3 linked regions of the Homo sapiens genome follow. Changing the gene in region 3 together with the main gene of any one other region gives a genetic interaction. Each region holds a gene or a part of one and is shown on either strand. Other genes may lie near its edges. The genes, in order: SSTR5, CYP4F12 and MAPK12.

Region 1 (3,749 bases), on a different chromosome or scaffold from region 3:
CAAACTGTAGGGTTGCTGAGCTGATGAAACTGAGTGAGCTTCTGTGTGCAGGGTGCTGCGTGCATCCACTCCCAGCAGCATCCATCCCTCCCATCTCCTGCCCCCACCCCACAACTCACCATCTGCAGGTGCCCGGTGTGCCAGGGTCAGCCCAGAAGCCACAGGGGACCCAGATGGCCCCAGTCTGCCCACAGCACCGCTCCCGGCCTCACCTCCCCACGACGGGGACCACAGCGGGGCTGGCATACACTGGGCGCTCAACGATTGCTCCCACAAGCTGCCCTAAGCAGCCCAGCATTTCCCCAGCATCCAGGAGGCCGCTGGGCTCCTCGGAGAAGGGGGCAGTCTTCACAGGGGCCTGGGACCAGAGGCGGGGCCTCAGCACCAAGTCCTCCATGACTGGGTGGAGGTCTAGCCTGCACCCTGCCAACTCCTTCCAGGCTAACCCAGCACGAGGTCGGGGAGTCGGCTCCTTCATGGGGGGCAGCGATGCGGCTGCAGCTTGGAGGGGCTGCGGAACCTGCTGCTCGGGGAGGCAGCGGCTCACACGGCCGGGGCCCACGCCGCACCCTGGAGAGGCTGCAGACCCACCCGGGCTCCTCCATTGTGTGCTGGGCAGGGGCAAACGTCGGGGGACACCCTAGCTAAGACTACAGGCCCCAGCCCCTCCAAAGGCCCCGGAGCCAGGCCTGTGCTCCCAGGACAAGCGTTCTGACCTGTTTCCTCTGTCGTAAGGGTGGCCTGGTGGCAGGCCACTGCCCCCTTGGGGTCCAGCTCTGTGAGTGCAGCCAATGGCACCCCTGCCTGTCCCCCACATACACGCCACCTGTCCCTGCGGCAGCCTGTGGCCAGGGGCACATACCCTCCCCAGGAGAGGGAAACTGAGGCAGGTGTGGGCCAGCCTGGAGCAGCAGCAGCAGGGGTCCCGCGTGCTCCGCGAACGCTTCTCGGGGCACCCTCCACACCAGGCACCTCCTGACAGCCTCGCTGGGTCTTGCTCTGGAAATCAACGCCAGGCGCCTGTCCTTGGTGCTGTTGACCAGTTTCTGCCCAGGAGGCTCTGGCAGTCCCCACCTACATAGTCCAGAATCACTGCCTTCAGAAAGGGCTCAGCCTCACTGGAACCATCCCCAACTTCTGTCACCATGCACTCCGCTCTCTTGCCCTTGAGGGGGCCCCAGGCAGGCTGGCAGGCTGGGGACAGCGGGTCGGGCACGTGGGTGGGTCTGGGGTGGGGGAGGAGGGCCAAGGGCACACACCCCAGTGGCGTGTTCTCTATTCTGGAGAGGGTGAAGACGCCAGGAGGATTCCAGGTACACGCGGTGCCTTGGACAGGAGGGGGCTCTGTTCGCAGCGGGCGGGGTGGCACCCCAGCCTCCCCAGTCTTGGGTTTCAGGGAACCCATCTGTGAGTGCCAGGTCACAGGGCCCCTGGGTGCTGGCCTCTGCCTGCTGCCTTCCAGGAGCTCACCGACCCAGCTGCGCGCAGGCACCAGTTGCCTCCCCCGGCACCCAAATTGCGGATCCTCCCCTCGCTGGGTGCCACGGGCACCCTGGGACCCTCCTTCCGTGGCCCAGTGGTTCCCTGTGGCCTGAGTGCCACTTCCGGCCCCCAGCCCCAGGCTCCGAGCCCTCCCCAGCCTTACCCACCCTCCTCCAGCTCCAGGAGCCAGCCCCGCTGTGGCCCCCGTCGTGGGGAGGAGAGGCCGGGAGCGGCGCGGTGGGCAGAGTGGGGCCATCTGGGTCCCCTGTGGCTTCTGGGCTGACCCTGGCACACGGGGTGCCTGCAGATGGTGAGTTGTGGGGTGGGGGCAGGAGATGGGAGGGATGGAGCTGCTGGGAGTGGATGGAACGGGAGGGGAGGGACCCCCGGCGGCGGCAGGAGAGCCCCGCGGGTGTGCGGAGGGCGCGTGGGGGACAGTGCGTGCAGCGGGCTGGGGGCGCACGGCGGGACCCCGGGCCGGGGCTGCGCACACAGGGTGAAACCCCCAGTGGGGATAACAGCCGAGGGCAGGGGGTGCCCGCGCGGGAGGGGGACAGGGGCGGGCGGCACTCACCTGGGCGGCGGCGCCCTCTGAACGGGGGAGCCCCGATGTCCGCGCGGCACTGGCTCCGGGCTCCCGGGCGCCGGCTGGGAGGGGGCGGGGCGGGGCGGGGGCGGGGCAGTGCCTGGTGGGGGCGGGGCAGGGCCGCTTCACCTGCTCGACTCCCGGGTCCCACGTCTGGCCTCCGGGAACCCTGGCGCACTCGCCCACAGCCCTGGTCCCACTGGCAGTGACCCCATGATCGCCTGCGCCCCCACCCTATTTTCTTGCTGTCCGCTCTGTGGTAGACCCCAGCTTGGGGTGGGGGTCCTGCCGCCAGCAGGAGTCCAGGGGGTCCCTCGTCGAGAGTCTGAAGAGGGTGGAGGGTCCTTGTTCAAGGGGAGAGGGTCAGGGGCTCTGCAGACGTCTCTGAGGGGTGGGCTGGGGTTGTGGAGATAAGTGGGTGTGTGGAGGCTGGTGGGGGCGGCAGGCAGCCCCAGCGAGGGGGGTCCGTGGTCGTGGGATTTCCAGGACACTCCACTCGGGTTTTATCCATGCCTTATTTGTGGATCCTACACATATTTAAGCATAGACTACCTGCTAAGTTGTTCTTTTTATTTCCCCTGAAATGAATCCATGGGTACACCTTAGTCCCTCACCTAAGGTGGGGTTCTCAGGCAGGCAGCAGAGTCACCTGGGTCCTCAAAGCAGATTCCTGGGCCTCGAGCTGGGCCCCCGACTCCCCAGGCAGTGAGGGCCTGGGAATCTGCATTCCTGAGAAGCTCCCGGGATGCTGATCCCCGGGCCCGCCGTGAGCGCCGCTGGTTGTAAGAAGCGGGACCGAGCGCCTCCTCCCGCTGAGCGCGGAGGCTGGGGATCACCGGACATTTTCCCACCAGGAGGTCCCCCAGCCCCCTCCCCTGACTCTGTGCCGACCCAGGGAGCCCCGCCACTGGCTGAATGAAGTGAGGCGCCCCCAGGTGACAGCAGAACTCGGAGGGCCCCTCTCTGAGGGGACATGGGAGCAGCCGCCTGCCGTCTGTTCACAGGTGGGGTCGGCTCCTGTTGAACAGGCGCCAGCAGCTCCCTTGAAGGCCGGGTACCGGGACCATGTTCTCTCCTTTAAGCGTTTCAGTGTTTCCACATGTTCTGCAAGCAGCGCGTGTTATGTTTACCATCGAGCAAGAGTGCTTAGAGGACCATGGCACCTGGCCCCAAGGTCCCCTCCCCTCCTCCCCAGCCTGCGGCCATGGCCAGGCCCTCAGGGGAGGCTGCAGGCTGGTCCCAGGTCCCCTGCCCAGAATCCGCCCCATAAGCCTTTCCATCCTCTCTGGAGGTACCTGGGCTGTATCCCTCCCACCCTCCCACAGCAGTGGCTTCCCAAGGCAGATCCTCTGAGAACCCCCTTTGTGACCCCTAACGCCTCCCCCATCTCCATCTGCTGCCCCTCCCCTCAGCCTCTGCCCACCATCCTCATGGTTCTCGCCTCAGCCCCTGGCTGTGTTCCTCCAGCTCCCACTGCCTCGCACCTGGGCCCCCATCTGTCATGTTCTGGGGCTCCCTGAGAAGCCTCTGGGGTCCCACTGTTCTGGAATCACTGGGTGCCCCAGGGGTGCAGGGTCCGGTGTGCGAGTCACGGCCCAGCGCCCAGTGGGAGCTCAGCCCTGCGGGTGGGTGGGCGCTGGATCTACTCACATCCCCAACATCAAGCTGGGACACCCCCCAC
Region 2 (3,649 bases), on a different chromosome or scaffold from region 3:
CAAATGCTATTGAAATAAAAGGAAGTAAAGAAGAGACAGATCTGCACATTAACAATATATCTTTGGGAGCTTTTCTTTTTCTAAAAATATGAGTTTTGGAAAATTAGTTCGTTTTTATTTTTAATTGGCAAATTTTAATTATATATGTTTATGGGGTGCAATGTGATATTATGATATATGTATACAACGTGGAATGATTAAGTCAATTTAATAAACATACCCGTCATCTCATATACTCATCATTTTTGTGGTGAGAATATTTGAAATTTGCTCTCTTAGCAATTTTGAGAAATTTATTATTATTAACTGTAGTCACCATGCATGCAATAGATCTCAAAACTTATTCCTTCTAACGGAAACTTGTACCCTTTGACCAATGTCTTTCCATTCTTTCTTCCTCCCTTCTCTGGTAACCACCATTCTCTTCTTGGTTTCTATGATTTCTGTGTTAATTATTTCAGATCTCACAGTTAATTAAGGTTATGTGCTGTTTGTCTCTTTGTGCCTGGCTCATTTCACTTAGCATAATGTCCTTTAGGTTCTTGCAGATTGCCACAAATGAAAGAATTTTCTTCTGTTTTAAGGCTGACTAGCATTCCATTTTGTATATATACACCACACGGAAAATGAGTTTTGAATTACAAAAGCAATGATGAGAACAGTTTCTTCTTGCACTCAATGAGGCATCACAGATAGACAAGGGTTATTCTTGACATTCCTGCTATCCCACCTAATATCCTCCCTTTCTCCAAGGGGGCCTGTAGAGATACTTATTTGTCATCTATCTGTCTGTCTGTTTACATCTATCTACATATCTTTCTATCATCGATCTCTTCTTATATTCCTTATATTTTTTGTCCTATGGTATTTACATATATGGACATTTGGGAACATGTTTTTTTCCACTCAATACTGTGTCTGACAGATATTTTTTCTGAGTGCTGAATAGCATTCCATGTTTTATTTGGCCCATCCCTTTGTTGAAGACACTTGCGTAAACATTTCCAATCATTGGAGGTATGGCCAATTTGCATTCCAGAGTCTCTGTACTGATTTAGCTTCTGGTCTGCATTGTGTGACAGGACTAGTGATCCTTTTTTTCTCCTTTTGTGTAGCTGTATACTATTCCATTGTGTGGATGTTTATCTAAACATCTCCCCATCCATGTATATTTGGCTTGTTTCATCCTTTTGCTAAATTAAACTTGTGCAATCGGCATGTGTGTACAGTGAGCATTGCTCATATGTATAAACATCACTGCAGGACAAATTCCCAAAAGTGCAATTGTTGAACCAAAGACCATTTGCATTCTACAGTTGTAATAATGATTGCAAATCCATCTCTATATTAGGTGAGTTTGATGGCACTAGCTTTCCCACAAATTTGCCAATAGTATTATTGTATTATTAAATTTAAATTTTTTGTCCATCTTCATATTTCATCTTTTAATGAGCATTTTCTTAAATAAGAGTGAGAAAGAACATCCTTTGCCCAAGTTGATAAGCCATTTATTTTCTTTCTATGGGAGTGGTCATCTGATATTTTCTGCTGTTTTTCTTTGGGTTCTTTTTTCTTATTTACTTATAAGAATGTGTATCACAATTAATGTTTTTTTTTTCTGTTTTTTTGTTGCAAAAGATTGCCTTTTGACTTTTTTGGGGGGTGCTTTTGGTTAATTTTTATGAAGTTACATTTGTTCGTATTTTCTTTTGTACCACACTACCCAGCTATTTCCCAGAGTTTTGTGGGGCTTCCTTTGGCAGATGGGAAGTTTCCACTTATTCACATGCCCGTCTCTGACCTTTTTAGTCTTTTGAATGCATCCGTTTTTATGGCATTGCCAGACTATTTTTTCTTACTGTGACTTTTCTTTTCTTTTTTCTTTTTTTGAGATGGAGTCTAGCTTTGTCGCCCAGGCTGGAGTGCAGTGGTGCGATCTCAGCTTACTGAAACCTCCTGCCTCTCTGGTTCAAGCTATTCTCCTGCCTCAGCCTCCCGAGTAACTGGGACTACAGGCACCCTCCACCACGCCTGGCTAATTCTTGTTTTAGGTAGAGATGAGGTTTCACCACATTGGTCAGGCTGGTCTCAAACTCTTGACCTCAAGTGATCCACCCACCTCGGCCTCCCAATACTCTGACTTTCTAATGGGTTTTAATATCTGGCAGAGTGGCTTTTTTTGTTGTTAAATCAACCCCTGCAAACATTTATTGTGTGATAAAGTGTATGTTTTATTTGGATTGAGGGAAATTTATAATGAAATACAGAGATTTCATGTTTCTTTTTAAGTTTAATCCAGGTATTTTATATTATTATGACTAGTATCTTTTCTTTTATTATCTTTTCATTTGATGGTTATTTCTATATGGTAAAACTAATGATTTATGCATATAAATTCTATGCCCAGTGAACATAGTATATGCTAAAGATGGTATCTGTATCAAGAGAAAAAATATAGATAATTAAGTAAAAGCTCTTGGGGCAACTGGAAAGCCTTCTGGAAAAAAGGCAACTGAACCTTGTTCTCATATCTTATGACAAGATAATGTTCAGATTAATCATTTTTTTCTAAAAGAGTCCTAAAAGCTCTAGAAGGAACCATGAGAAAATTATTTCATAGCGCCAGAGTAGGGATAACCTTATTTTGACGTAAGTCCCAGGGGCTATGAAAAAGTGATAAACTGTTAAATGAGAGAAAAGATACACGCCAGCCACGGTGGTTCATGACTGTAATCCCAGTACTTTGTGAGGCCAAGGTGGGCAGATCACTTGAGATCAGGAGTTCAAGACCAGCCTTGCCAAATTGGGGAAACTCCATCTCTACTAAAAATAAAAAAAAAAATTAGCTGGCTGTTGTGGTGAATGCCTGTAGTCCCAGCTACTTGGGAGGCTGAGGCAGTAGAATCACTTGAACCAGGGAGGTGGAGGTTGCAGTGAGACAAGATTGTGTCACTGCACTCCAGCCTGAGCAACAGAGACTCCATTCCCTCCCCCCATCAAAAAAGATACAGAATAGTGTCTACAGTAGATGGTGTGCTCCTATATAATTTTTTAAGATGCTTAAAATCAGCCCAGAAAGCATACATTAAAAAAAATAATAACCTGGCAACGTGTGGGGAGAAGTAAATGGCATTGGGCCATAGGAGTGAATTATGTTTTATAGTTTTCAAATTCTGAACCAGATAATTGTAGACGGTATGAAAATTTTAAATAGCCACTGCAAAAGAAGAAAGATTAAGCAGAGAATTCAGCTCCTTTGCTTGATCTTAAATGTTTATAAACGTTTTCCAGTGGGGCCTCTAGTGTTTTCTAAGTATAAAATCACTATCTGCCAAAATGATACATTTACTACCACATTTCAAATTGCCTGACTCTCGTGTTTTTTTGGCTGCATAAATGTCTTCTTTTGAGAAGTGTCTGTTCATGTCCTTCGCCCACTTTTTGATGGAGTTGTTTTTTTCTTGTAAATTTGTTTGACTTCATTGTAGATTCTGGATATTAGCCCTCTGTCAGATGAGTAGGTTGCGAAAATTTTCTCCCATTTTGTACGTTGCCTGTTCACTCTGATGGTAGTTTCTTTTGCTGTGCAGAAGCTCTTTAGTTTAATTAGATCCCATTTGTCAATTTTGGCTTTTGTTGCCATTGCTTT
Region 3 (3,290 bases):
GTACCCAGAGGGCTTGCATTGGTCAGGATAGAGGCAAAATCCTTCTTCTCCAATTCGGGGAGGCCCTTCATGTAGTTCTTGGCCTGTGTGGGAAGAAAGGGTGAGGGGCCAACACCAAGGCCCAGGTCCGCCCCCACCCCCACCCAGCTCCCCACTCACCCCTTACCTCATCGCTCTGCAGCCGCTGCACAAACTCAGCCGGAGGCGTCCCCGTCACCTTCATGATCTCCTTCAGCTGGTCCAGGTCTGCACCGAGGTCAGGAACACAGCTCGGGGGCCAGAGATCAGGGCCCCCACTGCCCCCACCTGGGCAGGAGCCATCCCCACCCGCCCCTGGTGCCGCCCTGCGGCTGGAGGATACGGTCGCTGCCCTTGAACAGCGTCTTGCCTGTGATCATCTCCGCCATGATGCAGCCCACAGACCAGATGTCCACTGAGATAGAAGCCCTGGTCAGCTCCGTGGGCAGGGGGACAGGATGAGACGGGGAGGGAGGAGACACCAACACAGCCCACCTGCCCGGCTCCCACCCCAGCTCAACAGCCTCCCTGGGAGCAGCCACCACAGGGCTGTCCGTGAAGAAGTGGAGAAGCAGATGGTGCAGCCTGAGAGGCCCAGATCTCTGGGCAGCTTCTCACCCGTCTGCGTGTAGCGCATCCAATTCAAGATGACCTCGGGAGCCCGGTACCACCGGGTCACCACGTACCCAGTCATCTCACTGTCTGCCTGCCTGGCCAGGCCGAAGTCCAGGATCTGTGGGAAGAATTGGGGAGGTGGGTTCTAGGGGACTCCCAAGGAGCGGACAGGCCACCCACGGTCCAGGAGACCCCGGGGGGTTGGACTTGAAGCTCCCAAGCTGGGGCCTCCTGACAACCTTCAAGGACTTGAGGCCACGCCCTCGGACCCCAAACTGCCCCGAGCTCCTCCCTCTGGCCAGTGCACCAAGCCCAGCAGCCCTCGGGACGGAGCAGGTGCCCTGGGTACGGCATGTTGTGTACCACTGCCTCTTGGGCTCACCCACCCACCAGCTCCTCAGCCACTGCCCAGAGCCTGGGACCTTGGCCCCCTGCCCAGGCCTGACAGGTGGATAGATGGGCAGATCCAGAGGGGGCCCCTGCCCCACCTCAGGGCCCCCTGCCAGGCAGCACACACCTTCAGCTCACAGTCTTCGTTCACAGCCAGGTTGCCGGGCTTCAGGTCCTGGGGGCAGAGGAAAGGTGGCCACTGTGCCCCACCCTCCCAAGCATGGGCACAGCCAAGAGCCTGGGTGGCACCTAAAGATGGGGCCACCGGACCTGGCCCCCTTGCTCTCTGCAGCCCTTCAAGGGCAGACCAAGGTACCTGGGCACCCAGGCAGGTTCCCACCAGGGGCTGTGCATAGGGCGTGGCTCAGCACCCAGACCCCATCACATCCTCACAGGTGGGACGTGGAGGCGGGGGGATTGCACTGGGGGAGGGCTGATGAGCGGCTTCTCCACCGGGACTCACTCTGTGGATGATGCCGGCAGCGTGGATATACTGCGGGGGGCAGAGGATTTGGCAGGCTTCAGCGCACCCTCTCAGAGCCACAGGGCCCTCCTCTGCCCAGCCCCGAGGCCCTGCCTGCCTCCCTGCAGCCTCCCCCGGGGCCCGTACCCTCAGCCCCTTCAGCATCTGGTACACGAGGAACTGGATCCGGTCCTCGCCTAGCTTCTCATGTTTCATGAGCTTGCCCAGGTCGGTGCCCATGAACGGCATCACCAGGTAACTGTGGGAGGGGCCGGAGCGCTGTCAGCGGACAGAGCCAGCCTCTGCATCCCAGAGACCCACCCAGCAGGCCCAGGCTCAGACCCGTCCCGGATCCAACAGGCACCCCCAGGAAGGTCACCCCTGCAGCACACATCCACACTGGCCTCGGTGTCCTCGCAGCCCCACCTTGCAGTGCCAGGCTCCATCCTCCCGCAACTGTTACTGCCAGCAGCGCTCACACCCCCCTCCCACCCTGAGGACTGTCAGGCAGGGAGGAGGCTGCCTTGGGGTTTTTGAACCCTCCGCTGAAGCGCCCTGCGTGCCAGGCTAGGGGCTGAGGCTCCATGGTAGAGGCAGCAGGACTCGAGTCTTCACAGGCAGGGGAGGGAGGCAGTCAGGTTTCAACTTCACAACTTTGTGCCAGAAATGAGGGAGGTGCCTGGGGGCGATGGGGGCGCGGCAAGGCATCTGGGTCAGAGGGGTCGGCTGGGCCGGTGGAGACAGACACAGGAGAATGGTATTTAGCACCTTCCCAGAGGCCACTGACTTGACCTCTGCAAGTCAGGCGGGAGGCGCCTGCTACCCTCTCCAGGCCTTCCTCGGCCTGGCCCTTCACTCTTGGCCGACAGGGTGTGAGTCCCAGGGTGGTCGGCTGCAGGGCAGGGGCAGGGTGGGTCCTCCCTACCGCTTCTCCCCCACCCGCTGGAAAAGGTCAGCAGCTCCAGTTACCGGCCACACACTTGGTGCCAGGGTCCCGAGCACGGGACCTTCCTGTTAACAAATGGTCAGGTCCAAGGTTCACACCTCCGGTGCTGGAGAGGGCCCAGGTGCCAGGCGTGGAGAGAGGCAGCAGCCCCAGCTCTGCCCAGCTGTGCCAGTGCCCGTGGGTCCCAGGACCATGTGGGGGAGGGCGTGGGGTGGACAGTGGTATGGGGAGGGGGTGGGCGGTGTGCATCCCCCACTCAGGCTGCAGGAAGAGAACCCCATTGCCAACCTAGAACCTGAAGCCAGTGCCCAGAGCTGCCCAACACCCCTCGTGCCCAGCGGCCAGCCCAGGTCGGCACTCACAAGTCCGTGAAGTCATCCAGGGTCTCATCAGGAGTGAATACGTCCAGCAGCCCGATCACCTGGGGGGGCCACATAGGGTTGAGAATGCAGCAGAGGACACGGGCTGGGGCACCCCCCAAGAGTGGCACAACCCTCTGGGCAGGAAACCCCCTCTGCAGCTGTCATTGTCATGCCCCACTGTCCAAAGGGCCTGGCTCTGCCCACTGGCAGTGTGGCCCAGCCCTGGCACACATACCCACTGGCAGTGTGGCCCAGCCCTGGCACACATACCCACAGAAAGGTTATTTTTGGACGGTGACAACCGGGATCTTCTGGGGGAGGGGCAACCCGGAGTCTGGGATGGCTCCGAACCATCCAAAGGGCTCCTGCCGCCTGACCCTTTCACCCCTCTTCACCCCAACCAAACAGATCCAGGCCCAGGGTGGGGACAGCGCTATGGAAAGAGGCCAGGCCTCTGCTGGTGAGGCCCAGGCGGACAGCACCGTGACCCACCAGA

What was found.
Region 1: changes in MAPK12 (region 3) and SSTR5 together harm fitness more than expected from each alone (negative genetic interaction), as found in Homo sapiens cells (one large-scale study listed by BioGRID).
Region 2: changes in MAPK12 (region 3) and CYP4F12 together harm fitness more than expected from each alone (negative genetic interaction), as found in Homo sapiens cells (one large-scale study listed by BioGRID).

The regions. Positions count from the first base shown.
Region 1 is NC_000016.10:1,071,130-1,074,878, reverse strand, and holds the start of SSTR5 (somatostatin receptor type 5), read right to left. Parts: upstream 2,133-3,749; 5' UTR 2,057-2,132; intron 1-2,056.
Region 2 is NC_000019.10:15,690,087-15,693,735, forward strand, and holds part of CYP4F12 (cytochrome P450 4F12), read left to right. Parts: intron 1-3,649. UniProt on the Homo sapiens protein: A cytochrome P450 monooxygenase involved in the metabolism of endogenous polyunsaturated fatty acids (PUFAs).
Region 3 is NC_000022.11:50,255,449-50,258,738, forward strand, and holds part of MAPK12 (mitogen-activated protein kinase 12), read right to left. Parts: intron 2,854-3,290; coding exon 2,795-2,853; intron 1,746-2,794; coding exon 1,634-1,745; intron 1,517-1,633; coding exon 1,487-1,516; intron 1,199-1,486; coding exon 1,151-1,198; intron 752-1,150; coding exon 637-751; intron 434-636; coding exon 362-433; intron 247-361; coding exon 167-246; intron 84-166; coding exon 5-83; intron 1-4. UniProt on the Homo sapiens protein: Serine/threonine kinase which acts as an essential component of the MAP kinase signal transduction pathway.